3 linked regions of the Homo sapiens genome follow. The protein of the gene in region 2 purifies or fractionates together with the protein of the main gene of each other region. This does not show direct contact. Each region holds a gene or a part of one and is shown on either strand. Other genes may lie near its edges.

Evidence for each region.
Region 1: the proteins of RMND5B (region 2) and UCK2 purify together in Homo sapiens (affinity purification with mass spectrometry, with the first as the bait; one large-scale study listed by BioGRID). This does not show direct contact.
Region 3: the proteins of RMND5B (region 2) and SETD5 purify together in Homo sapiens (affinity purification with mass spectrometry; one large-scale study listed by BioGRID and IntAct). This does not show direct contact.

The regions. Positions count from the first base shown.
Region 1 is NC_000001.11:165,830,494-165,834,135, reverse strand, and holds part of UCK2 (uridine-cytidine kinase 2), read right to left. Parts: intron 1-3,642. UniProt on the Homo sapiens protein: Phosphorylates uridine and cytidine to uridine monophosphate and cytidine monophosphate. Does not phosphorylate deoxyribonucleosides or purine ribonucleosides. Can use ATP or GTP as a phosphate donor.
Region 2 is NC_000005.10:178,129,707-178,133,952, forward strand, and holds the start of RMND5B (E3 ubiquitin-protein transferase RMND5B), read left to right. Parts: upstream 1-1,307; 5' UTR 1,308-1,348; exon of another isoform or gene 1,349-1,530; 5' UTR 1,531-1,670; intron 1,671-4,246. UniProt on the Homo sapiens protein: Core component of the CTLH E3 ubiquitin-protein ligase complex that selectively accepts ubiquitin from UBE2H and mediates ubiquitination and subsequent proteasomal degradation of the transcription factor HBP1.
Region 3 is NC_000003.12:9,396,143-9,400,482, reverse strand, and holds the start of SETD5 (histone-lysine N-methyltransferase SETD5), read right to left. Parts: upstream 2,869-4,340; 5' UTR 2,506-2,868; intron 1-2,505.

The sequences.
Region 1 (3,642 bases), on a different chromosome or scaffold from region 2:
AAACTAACACCACCAAGGTCATCCAAGACTCACCAAGTATTAAACAAGATTTTTAAAAATAAAACGTCTTTCAATCTTCAGTCACAAATAAAAAATATTTTAGTATCAAAAGATTTTATACCATTAAAGAAATTATGTTTCTAAATGTTTCCTTTTTCTCATTTTTTATTCCTATTTTGTATGTCATAATTATATATGGGTTATACTTATATATTTTATATATATGATGAAAAGATCGAATGCTTTCATGACAAATCAGCTTAATGACTGAAATGGTTTAATGGACACGAAAGCATACAGACATGCATACACACTCACATATAAAAGTATACTCTCAACCCCTTTTTATTGATTTTAAAATACTGAAATACAAGTCTAAGATTTAGAGACCTTAAGTAGTTCCAACAGCACCATCACAGAGCCCACTAGCAAAAAAGGTCAGGTCTTCAGCAGTGAAATTCCCAAAGACAATCTGTCTCCATCACAGAACCTCATAAAAGCAAGATTTGACAAAGAAATGACATGAAAGCAAATGCTATGTAGTGAACTGGTAGGTGACCACAAACAGAGTGAGCATCAGAAACCATACTTCAAAGACACTCAAGGAACAAAGAAGAAATACAGCCTGAGGAAAGGCAGCAGGATAGGAACTACTGGAGGCAGCAGGACCCAGGGTTTCTTCTTCATTCTACCAGACATCGTGCTAGGCATGGCTCAGTGAACAAGCAGGAGAGATTCAGGCAGAGCAGACAGCAAATGCGGACATCCTTGGCTGGGGGAAAGCCTGCCATGCCAAGAGTGGGTCTGGCTGGACTAGCTAGAGTAAGGGGGAAAGGGAAGAAGGTCCGAAGGGCCAGATCATGGCAGCAGTTTGAGGTGACGGAAAACACACAATGCCATCTCTGAGAAAAGCAGCAAAAGGACCAAACCAGCCCCACAGTCCTGGGAACACCTGACAGGAAGGTGTGGAATACGTGATCTGGCTGGATGGGGATGGCGACCAAGGTTCCAGAACAGAGCAGTGGGCGCCGACACGGGTCCAGAGCACATTCTGAAGCATTCCAAAAGCAGATGCTGACTCACGGCCAAGCTGCACTGAGGTGGCAGTCCACACCTCAGAGGGGACAGCATCTCCTCTCTTATCCTATAATGGTCACACACAGGCCAACCTCCCTAAAAATATTTACACGAAGAGGCCACTGCTTGTGGAGAAAGTTCAAAACAGGTACAGATTTTAAGAAAAAAAACCGGCCGGGCACAGAGGCTCATGCCTGTAATCTCAGCACTTTGGGAGGCTGAGGCGGATCATGAGGTCAGAAGATGAGACCAGCCTGGCCAACACAGTGAAACCCCGTCTCCACTAAAAATACAAAAATTAGCCGGACATTGTGGTGGGCACCTGTAATCCCAGCTACTTGGGAGGCTGAGGCAGGAGAATCGCAGGAGTTGTAGTGAGCCGAGTTCGCACCCCTGCACTCCAGCCTGGGTGACAGAGCAAGGCTCTGTCCCAAAAATAAATAAAAAATAAAACCCTAGATCCTAATCCCAGTCCTACCACTAAGTCAAAAGTTCCCCTAACCTCATCTTCCATTGTCATCTACCAGTAGGGAAGACACATGCCTGACTTCAAAGGGAATAGATAATCAAATGCTTTAATGATAAAGTGACTTGGTAATAAACACAGTGGAAGAAATTTATAAACAGTAAACTGCTAAGGACAGAGACCTTCTTTCATGGTTTCTTAAATCCTTATTTCCCCTCAATCCCAAGCACTTAAACAGGTTAAGTAAGAAAAAGTATTCTCTCACAGAACACATACTCTACGGGAAGAAGCAGTCAACAAATAAGCATAAGACAAGAAAGATATGGTAAGTCTATGGAAGCAGAAGACAGAAAAAATAATTCTCATTAAGGAAATGGGTAACAAAGCTCCCTCAAGAAAGTATTAACAGAGCTGAGCCTTAAAAAGACTAAAGGCCATTACAAAAAGAAGACCACTGAGCAAAAATGTAAGTGAAGACAGTTCAGTAAGATGGTCTGTGTGCATTTGGCTGTGTAGAAAAATAAGGCCGGGCACGGTGGCTCATGCATGTAATCCCAACGCTTCGGGAGGCCAAGGCAGGCAGATCACCTGAGGTCAGGAGTTCGAGACCAGCCCGGCCAACATGGTGAAACCCCCACCTCTATTAAAAATACAAAAAAACTAGCCAGGCCTGGTGGCACATGCCTATAATCCCAGCTACTCAGGAGGCTGAGGCAGGAGAATTGCTTGAACCCAGGAGGTGGAGGTTGCAGTAAACCAAGATGGCACCACTGCATTCCAGCCTGAGTGACAGAGTGAGATTCCATCTCAATAAAAAATAAAATAAAAAATAAAAATAATAGCCTGGGACCATATTAGGGGCCAAGGGGATTTGTACTGTACTGAAGTGTTTGACCTGTACTGAGCAGTGGGGAGTTACCCAAGGTTTCCAAAAAGGAAAATGGCACATCCAGAGCTATTCCTAAGGAAGACCACTCTGATGGCAGTGTAATGGAGCAGATTTTTCTCGTTTCAGAGGCTATTTTAGTTGTCCAATGAAGAGGTTACAGAACAAGGAACAGGCAAAGATGAAAAGGAAACAGAATGACACCTAAAAGTCACAGATATGTATGCAGGCAAAGAAGTTTAGCCTGGGTTTTTTTCCACCTTTTAGTGTTATTACACCTGTCCTTTAGGGGGAAATATGAAAATCTGGTTTGGTTTGCTTTTGAGATGGGGTCTTGCTACGTTGCCCAGTCTGGAGTACAGTGGCACCATCAAAGCTCACTGCAGCCTCCAAGTCCTAGGCTCAAGCCATCCTCCTGCCTCAGCCTCCTGAGAAGCTGGTGGCACATACATGGCTAATTTTTAATTTTTCGTAGAGACGGGGTCTCTCTCTGTTGCCCAGGCTGGTTTTGAAGGCATCCTCCTTCCTTGGCCTCCCAAAGTGCTGGGACTAGAGGTGTGAGCCACCGTACTCAGCCATAACCTTTTTTGGTTTTTGTTCGAGACAGGTCTTGCTCTGTCACCCAGGCTGGAGTGTAGTGGCACAATCACAGCTCACTGCAGCCTCGACCTCCCATACTCAAGCATTCCTCCCACCTCAGCCTCTAGACCTGCAGCACTGCACCTGGATAATTTTATTATTTGTAGAGAACAAGTCTCACCATGTTGCCCAAGCTGAGAATCTGGTTTTAAACATAGGTCAAAATAACTTTCTCGACCCACCACAATTTTCATTTTATACAGATGGGGTCTCACTATGTTGCCCAGGCTGGCCTCAAACTCCCGGGCTCAAGCAATCCTCCTGTCTCTGCCTCCCAAAATGCTAGGATTACAGGTGTGAGCCACCAGGCCCAGTCTTGGACTTTTTTAATAACAAAAATATCAATAATCTTAAAGGATGACAAACTATCAATCATTCGTATGTCAAAAATGTACAAACAAGCTTGGGCAACATGGTGACCTAGTCTCTACAAAAAATAAAGATTGCCGGCGTGGTGGCGCACACCTGTAATCCCAGCACTTTGGGAGGCCGAGGCGGGCGGATCACAAGGTCAGGAGATTGAGACCATCCTGGCTAACACAGTGAAACTCCGTGTTTACTGAAAATACAAAAA
Region 2 (4,246 bases):
TCGCCTAGGCTGGAGTGCAATGGCGCGATCTCGGCTCACTGCAACCTCCGCCTCTCGGGTTCAAACGATTCTCCTGCCTCAGTCTCCCGAGTAGCTAGGATCATGGGACTACAGGCGCCTGCCACCATTCCCGGCTAATTTTTGTATTTTTAGTACAGACGGGGTTTCACCATATTGGACAGGCTGGTCTCGAACTCCTGACCTTATGTTCCGCCCGCCTCAGCCTCCCAAAGTGCTGGGATTACAGGCGTGAGCCGCCCGGCCCGGAGTTTTCTATTCTTTTTTTTTGAGACGGAGTCTCGCTCTGTCGCCCAGGCTGGAGTGCAGTGGCGCCGTCTCGGCTCACTCCGAGCTCCGCCTCCCGGGTTCACGACATTCTCCTGCCTCAGCCTCCCGAGTGGCTGGGACTACAGGCGCCCCCCACCTCGCCCGGCCAATTTTTTGTATTTTTAGTAGAGACGGGGTTTCACCGTGTTAGCCAGGATGGTCTCGATCTCCTGACCTCCTGATCCGCCCGCCTCGGCCTCCCAAAGTGCTGGGATTACAGGCGTGAGCCGCCGCGCCCGGCCTGGAGTTTTCTTTTTTTTTTTAAGCATCACTTCATATTTCAAGAGCTCTCAGTTCTCCTGAGATTTCTAGGCTCTGTCCAGGATCCCTAAGCCTGTTCACAGTCCTACTTGAAGTTTCTAATCTTTCTTTTCTCATTAACCAAAACTGGAGAGAGGAAAAAGCCCATCATTTTCCCTGGACAGCAGCGCCTACTGGGAGTTTCACCCGCATTAACATGCAAACGACAGGCAAACTCCTAGTCATCCTTCCAAAGACCCTGCTCCACAGCCCTGCCGAGGCCGGTGCGCACCTAGCCCAGCCACTGCCCCTCACGGCCCCCGCGCCGCCCTCACTGAGCAGGGCGGGCAGCGCTGTAAGCGTAACCACTTGGGGCTTGGGGCTTCTGACCCGGGAGTCGGGTGCTGGGTTGAGTGCGAGGCCGACGCCTCTGCCGGGTGGGGAACCCGCCCGCCGGCGAGGAGCGGTCGCGGCCAGGGGCTTCCGCCGACTGGGAGGCCCGGGGCCGGGCCGGAGGGACTCGGAACCTGGAAACGACCAGGCGCGACCCCCAGAGGACTACAGGCGCGGCTTTTCTGGCCGCCGCCCGGTTCCCGCGGGCGACTCCACTCGGCATGCGCGGCGGGGAGCCTCGGCGGTGAGGCGCAAAGCCGCGGGCTCGTGGGACGGCCACCCCTCCGCAAAACCGCCAATGGGCGGGCCCGGGCCGCCGATCGCCCGCCGCGGCTTCCGGTTCCGATGACAGTGGCGCCGGAAGCCGGGGCCGGGGCTGCGGGGCGAGGTGAGAGCGGGCGGGCTTGGGAGCCGGCAGGTGCGGGCCGAGGGCGGGCACAGCGGCCGGCGGAGCTGAGGCGCGCGGCGGGGAAAGCTCGGCCGGCCTCCCGGGCCCCAGCCTTCTCCAGAACCCCTGCTACCCACGACTAAGCCCCGAACAATCTGCCCTTGGGCTTGTTCTCTTCGCAGTTGTCGGCCCTGGGCCGGGAGCTGGAGTCCCAGACTCATAGGTCCCGGCCCAGCCCCCGAAGAGCCGCCTCAGCCGGGGGGAGTTGCTCGGACTCAAACGTCCAGTCCTCGTGCGACCGCGCTGGGTCGGAAGTGAGCAGGTGCGCACCGGGCTCGGCAGGGCTATGGAGCAGGGTCTTTGGAAGGATGACTAGGAGTTTGCCTGTCGTTTGCATGTTAATGCGGGTGAAACTCCCAGTAGGCGCTGCTGTCCAGGGAAAATGATGGGCTTTTTCCTCCCTCCAGTTTTGGTTAATGAGAAAAGAAAGATTAGAAACTTCAAGTAGGACTGTATAGTAAAAAAAAAAAAAAAATGGAGGAGGGCGATATGACACGGTAACTGGTGTGAGGGTGGGGCGGAGGGGTCAGTATTAGATACTGTGGTCTAGCAGAGCATCTCTGAGGACGGGACATTTGCGTTGAGACCCAAATTAGGAGGCAGGCTTAGGAAGATACGGGAAGAGAGTGGTCCAGGCAGCGGGAACAGCCAGTGTGAAGGCCCTAGGGCAGAAATCAACTGAGAGTATAGTCAAGGAACAGAAAGCAAGCTAGTGTGGCTAAAGTATGGTAAGAAAGGGAAAGAGTGGTAGGAGATGAGGTCGGATAATTGGGGTTTGGTCACATAGAGTCTGTAGGTCAGAGAGAGGAATGTGGAGTTTTTTCTAAGTACAGTGGAAATCTTTTGGTTTTAAGCAGAGGAGTGACATGTAGGGTAGAGAGTGGATGGAGGTCGCGGCTGCAAAAGCATAAGAATTGGCTGGGCACGGTGGTTCACGCCCGTAATTCCAGCACTTTGGGAGGCTGAGACTGGCAGACGGCTTGAGCTCAGCACTTCAAGACCAACCTGGCCAACATGGTGAAACCCTGTCGCTCCAAAAAATTAGGCTGGGCGCAGTGGCTCACGCTTGTAACCCCAGCACTTTGGGAGGCCAAGGCGGGAGGATCACTTGAGGCCAGGAGTTCAAGACCAGCCTGGCCAACATGGTGAAACCCCGTCTCTACTAAAAATACAAAATTTAGCCGGGTGTGGTGGCAGGTGTCTGTAATTCCAGCTACTTGGGAGGCTGAGGCAGGAGAATCGCTTGAAACTGGGAAGCAAAGGTTGCAATGAGCCAAGATCGTGCCACTGTACTCCAGCCTGGGCGACAGAGTAAGACTCTGTCTCAAAAACAAACAACAAAAAAATTAGCCAGGTGTGGTGGGGAGAGAGGGGAAGAATAGGGACAAAAGGGAATACATAAATAAACACAAAGGAGAAAAGGCCCTGCATGGACCACTTACATGTGTCATGAACTCAGGAGTGTTCATGGTGGGACTACATGGTGCACCTGTAGTCCCAGCTTCTTGGGGTGGGGGGCTGAGGTGGGAGGATCACTTGAGCCCAGGAGGTCGAGGCTGCAGTGAGCCCTGATTGTACCACAGCACTCTGGCCTGGGAAACAGATTGAGACCCTGTCTCTCTCTTTTTTTTTTTTTTTTTAAGCAACCCTATTAACTGAAGAGACCCTGCCTCACAAAAAAAAAAAAAAAAAAAAAAAAGCGTTAAGAATTGGGTCAATGGAGGTTGTCTAATCTTTTTTTTTTGTTTTTGTTTGTTTGTTTGTTTTTTTGAGACAGTCTCACTCTGTCGCCCAGGCTGGAGTGCAGTGGCGCCATCTCAGCTCACTGCAACCTCTGCCTCCTGGGTTCAAGCAATTCTCCTGCCTCAGCCTCCCGAGTAGCTGGGATTACAGGCACGCACCACCACGCCCAGCTAATTTTTGTATTTTTAGTAGAGACAGGGTTTCGCCATGTTGGTCAGGCTGGTCTCAAACTCCTGACCTTGTGATCCGCCTGCCTCGGCCTCCCAAAGTGCTGGGATTACAGGCATGAGCCACCACGCCCAGCCGATGTTGTCTAATCTTTGTCAGGCAAAAGGGACCTTTATGATTTGCTCAAACTTCCTTTCTCCTTACACAGGAGCCCCTTGTTTCAGGATGCTAAATACTCCAGGATAAACCTCCATACATGCCTTTGTGGAGATTTTAATATTTCACTCATGTCTCTTTTCTACCCACTCCTACACATTTGAGCTCAGGTTCTCCAGCGCAGTTAGGAAATGGATGTGTCATTTAATCAGCAAATGTGTGTGTGTGTTTTTTTAAATTTGAGACGGAGTTTTTGCTCTTGTTGCCCAGGATGGAGTGCAATGGCGTGGTCTTGGCTCACTGCAACCTCCACCTCCTAGGTTCAAGCGATTGTCCTGCCTCAGCCTCCTGAGTAGCTGGGATTACAGGTGCCCGCCACCACGCCTCGGTAATTTTTGTATTTTTAGTAGAGACGAAGTTTCACCATGTTGGTCAGGCGGGTCTCAAACTCTTGACCTCAGGTGAGCCACCCACCTCAGCCTCCCAAAGTGCTGGGATTACAGGTGTGAGCCACTGCGCCGGCCAATCAACAATTTTTTTTTTTTTTGGAGACGGAGTCTCACGCTGTCTCCCAGGCTGGAGTGCAGTGGCACAATCTTGGCTCACTGCAAGCTCCACCTCCCGGGTTCACACCATTCTCCTGCCCCAGCCTCCCGAGTAGCTGGGACTACGGGTGCCCGCCACCACACCCGGCTAATTTTTTGTATTTTTTTAGTAGAGATGGGGTTTCACCGTGTTAGCCAGGATGGTCTTGATCTCCTGACCTCATGA
Region 3 (4,340 bases), on a different chromosome or scaffold from region 2:
GATGGAGACACATAACAAAATAATAAGAATTGATTCTATGATTAAAGAGATGGAGGAAGGCATGATATGTGAGCTGCAGGAAAAAATTCCTGTTATTTTCTTCCTATTGTGGTTATCAGAAAGATTCTTAAAATTATTACTTGGGTTTTTAAACTGATTGAAAAATTAAAACTCTAATGGAACTTTTAGTCCTATCCAAGCACAAATGTCTAGATAAAAAACAAAAATCTGCCAAAAAACAAAAATCAAATCAAACAAACAAAAAAAGAAAGGCTTTAACCATGATCCAGTTTCCAGATGCCAATATCCATAAATGGGTAGGAGATTATGAATTACTAATTCCCATCTCCCCACCAATAAAAAGCAAACCAGCTCAGCAGTGAAAATTCCCAGAAAAGCAAGGTTTCTTCTTAGTCCTGAAGCAGCCATCGCCTAAGTGCTGCTCCCTGCAGCCAGCAGCATTAATGGACGCTGCACTGCTGTCCTTCCCTGGAGACAGCAGCCAGCACTACTCAAGCTTCTCACGTAGCAACCAGAGCTCCAGAGCCAGCAGCTGCTGCTGCCTTGTATACTCACCCCTGTGATCCAACCCAAAGGAACAACCTTCTCTTTACCCCACCCCCACTCCTTACACACACTTTTTTTTTTTTTTTTTGGACCAGTGCTCCATGCCAGAAGGGCTGGAATTATGCTTTTAAGAAAGAAACAATCCTAAGGTCACCCTTTTAAACCAAGGCCTTTTATTAGAAAAATCAACATTTACCAAATTCTAAATATCCATTTTAATTAAGCCAGCAGTTTAGGAGTGAAGATTAAGCTTTGGTCTTTTGAAAGCCAATTTCCCAAGCACTCTACAATCTAATTTAAATTTGCAGCTAGAAACAGAGCCTTGTGTCATGTCCTACCAAAGGGCATAATTCATTTTTCTACACATAATGACAGTCTGAGTAAACCTTAAAGACTCTAATCCCATAACAGGCCAGAATTTTTGGCTACAGAAGAGAACTAATGATCCTGAGAAAACTGGAAGAAATCCAATAGAAAAAAAAAAGCCCTACGTCCTCTATGGAGCCCAGAAACCTCTGATTACGTGGGTATTCTCTGCTTTAGTCCTAGCTCAGATCCCACACATCTAAAATTACCACTTAGAACTTTCTGTGACCTAAAAACATTAATAATATAAAATTAACAACCAAAAAATAATTTCAAATAGGGAGTACACACTCTCCTAAAAAGCTCAGCACACTCCACTCAGCTGGATCCTCCCCAATCACAAGTATAGCTATGTAACATCTGTCCAACAAAGAAATGTAAATATGACCTTGGTCACAAATATGTCATCTAAAAACTTGTTTAGTCAACTGATGAAGGTAATTAGCACAGAACTTGGGGATTCGTTCAGTACCTATGTGCAGGAAGGAAACTGGAGAAATGAACTTAAATATAGACAAAGCCCAGTGGAACCCAGAGGTCTGGGAAAGAAATGAGTTACCGGTGAATACATTGCACAAGTAACATGAGAAAGCAGAAAATGCAGGTCATACACGCACCCCTGACCCAGACCAGCAGAGCTGACTGCAGCATCCATATCCAAGAGAAAGACCACTGACGCCCAAGAAGTGAGACAAGCAAGGACTCTATAGAATCAATTAGCATAGAAGGGGCTTTCCCAACAGTTTAACTTTCCCTCTCATGCGATTTACCTACTTGAACCAGGGCTCTTTCCTACACTCCTCTTCACATTCCCGACTTACACGCAGAGGGAAAGAGAATTCATAAAGGGAATATTTTTCTGCCTTTGAAGATATTCTCACAAGATCGTTCTCCACGCCCAAGGCAAGTAAAACGACACAATCTGGCTCAACTCCAGGCTCGAACCCTACACATTCAACGAGGCTATCTCAGACACGCTGTGGCACACGCCACGGGGAGCCAGAGAACGTGTGGTGGGGGTGGCGAAGGTAATGCCTTTGGGAAGCAGCCATCTGAGGTGGGAAGCCAGAAAACGAGAGGGAAGGCGTCCAGGAAGATTACGGAGGGGAGATCGCGGCCCCCAGAGCGATCAGAGTTGTCTGTCACAAGGCCGCGAGAACGGGGGTAGGGAGTGGGGGATCGGGGAGAGAAAAAAAGTATGCCTGTGTATTTCGAGCGGAGGGCAGCAAGAGGCCTCTCCTCAAGGGAAAGGTAAACGTGGAGTAGGCAGTTCCCAGGAAAGGGGGTGAAGAGGCGTTGGGGGAGGGGAAGCGTCCTGACCCAGGAAAAACATGAAAGGGGGAGTTGGGTCGCCTAGATTAGAGGGGGATCTCTCTCCCTGGGAAAATGGGGTGTTGCAACGGTGTGTGCAAGGCGGCGAGGGGGGTGAGAAGTGGCAGCATCCTCCTAAGAGCTTGGGGAGGGCCAGGCCCACGACCCAAGGAGAGCGAGCGCGGGGAGACGGAGGAGGTGACCCTTCCCTCCCCTGGGGCCCGATCGTGAGGTTCGGTCTCTTTTCTGTCGGACCCTTACCTTGTCCCAGGCGCTGCCGGGGCCTGGGCCCGGGCTGCGGCGCACGGCACTCCCGGGAGGCGGCAGGACTCGAGTTAGGCCCAACGCGGCGCCACGGCGTTTCCTGGCCGGGAATGGCCCGTACCCGTGAGGTGGGGGTGGGGGGCAGAAAGGCGGAGCGAGCCAAAGGCGGGGAGGGGGGGCAGGGCCAGGGAAAGAGGGGGGCCGGCACTACTGTGTTGGCGGACTGGCGGGACTGGGGCTGCGTGAGTCTCTGAGCGCAGGCGGGCGGCGGCCGCCCCTCCCCCGGCAGCGGCGGCGGCGGCGGCGGCGGCGGCGGCGGCGGCAGCTCACTCAGCCCGCTGCCCGAGCGGAAACGCCACTGACCGCACGGGGATTCCCAGCGCCGGCGCCAGGGGCACCCGGGACACGCCCCCTCCCGCCGCGCCATTGGCCTCTCCGCCCACCGCCCCGCACCCATTGGCCCACTCGCCGCCAATCAGCGGAAGCCGCCGGGGCCGCCTAGAGAAGAGGCTGTGCTTCGGCGCTCCGGCTCCTCAGAGAGCCTCGGCTAGGTAGGGGAGCGGAACTCTGGTGGGAGGGGAGGTGCGGTACACTGGGGGGATGGGTGGCTAGGGGGGCCGTCTGGTGGCTTGCGGGGGTTGCCTTTCCCGTGGGAAGTCGGGAACATAATGTTTGTTACGTTGGGAGGGAAAGGGGTGGCTGGATGCAGGCGGGAGGGAGGCCCGCCCTGCGGCAACCGGAGGGGGAGGGAGAAGGGAGCGGAAAATGCTCGAAACCGGACGGAGCCATTGCTCTCGCAGAGGGAGGAGCGCTTCCGGCTAGCCTCTTGTCGCCGATTGGCCGTTTCTCCTCCCGCCGTGTGTGAAAACACAAATGGCGTATTCTGGTTGGAGTAAAGCTCCTGTCAGTTACGCCGTCGGGAGTACGCAGCCGCTTAGCGACTCTCGCGTTGCCCCCTGGGTGGGGCGGGTAGGTAGGTGGGGTGTAGAGATGCTGGGTGTGCGGGCGCGGCCGGCCTCCTGCGGCGGGAGGGGAGGGTCAGTGAAATCGGCTCTGGCGCGGGCGTCCTCCCACCCTCCCCTTCCTTCGGGGGAGTCGGTTTACCCGCCGCCTGCTTGTCTTCGACACCTGATTGGCTGTCGAAGCTGTGGGACCGGGCCCTTGCTACTGGCTCGAGTCTCACATGAGCGAAACCACTGCGCGGGGCGCGGGGGTGGCGGGGAGGCGGGCGTTGGTACGGTCCTCCCCGAGGCCGAGCGCCGCAGTGTCTGGCCCCGCGCCCCTGCGCAACGTGGCAGGAAGCGCGCGCTGGAGGCGGGGGCGGGCTGCCGGCCGAGACTTCTGGATGGCGGCGGCCGCGGCTCCGCCCCGGGTTCCCACCGCCTGAAGGGCGAGACAAGCCCGACCTGCTACAGGCACTCGTGGGGGTGGGGGAGGAGCGGGGGTCGGTCCGGCTGGTTTGTGGGTGGGAGGCGCTTGTTCTCCAAAAACCGGCGCGAGCTGCAATCCTGAGGGAGCTGCGGTGGAGGAGGTGGAGAGAAGGCCGCACCCTTCTGGGCAGGGGGAGGGGAGTGCCGCAATACCTTTATGGGAGTTCTCTGCTGCCTCCCGTCTTGTAAGGACCGCCCTGGGCCTGGAAGAAGCCCTCCCTCCTTTCCTCCTCGCGTGATCTCGTCATCGCCTCCATGTCGAGTCGCTTCTCGATTATGGGCGGGATTCTTTTGCCTAGGCTTAAGGGGCTAACTTGGTCCCTGGGCGTTGCCCTGCAGGGGAGTGAGCAGCTGTAAGATTTGAGGGGCGACTCCGATTAGTTTATCTTCCCACGGACTAGA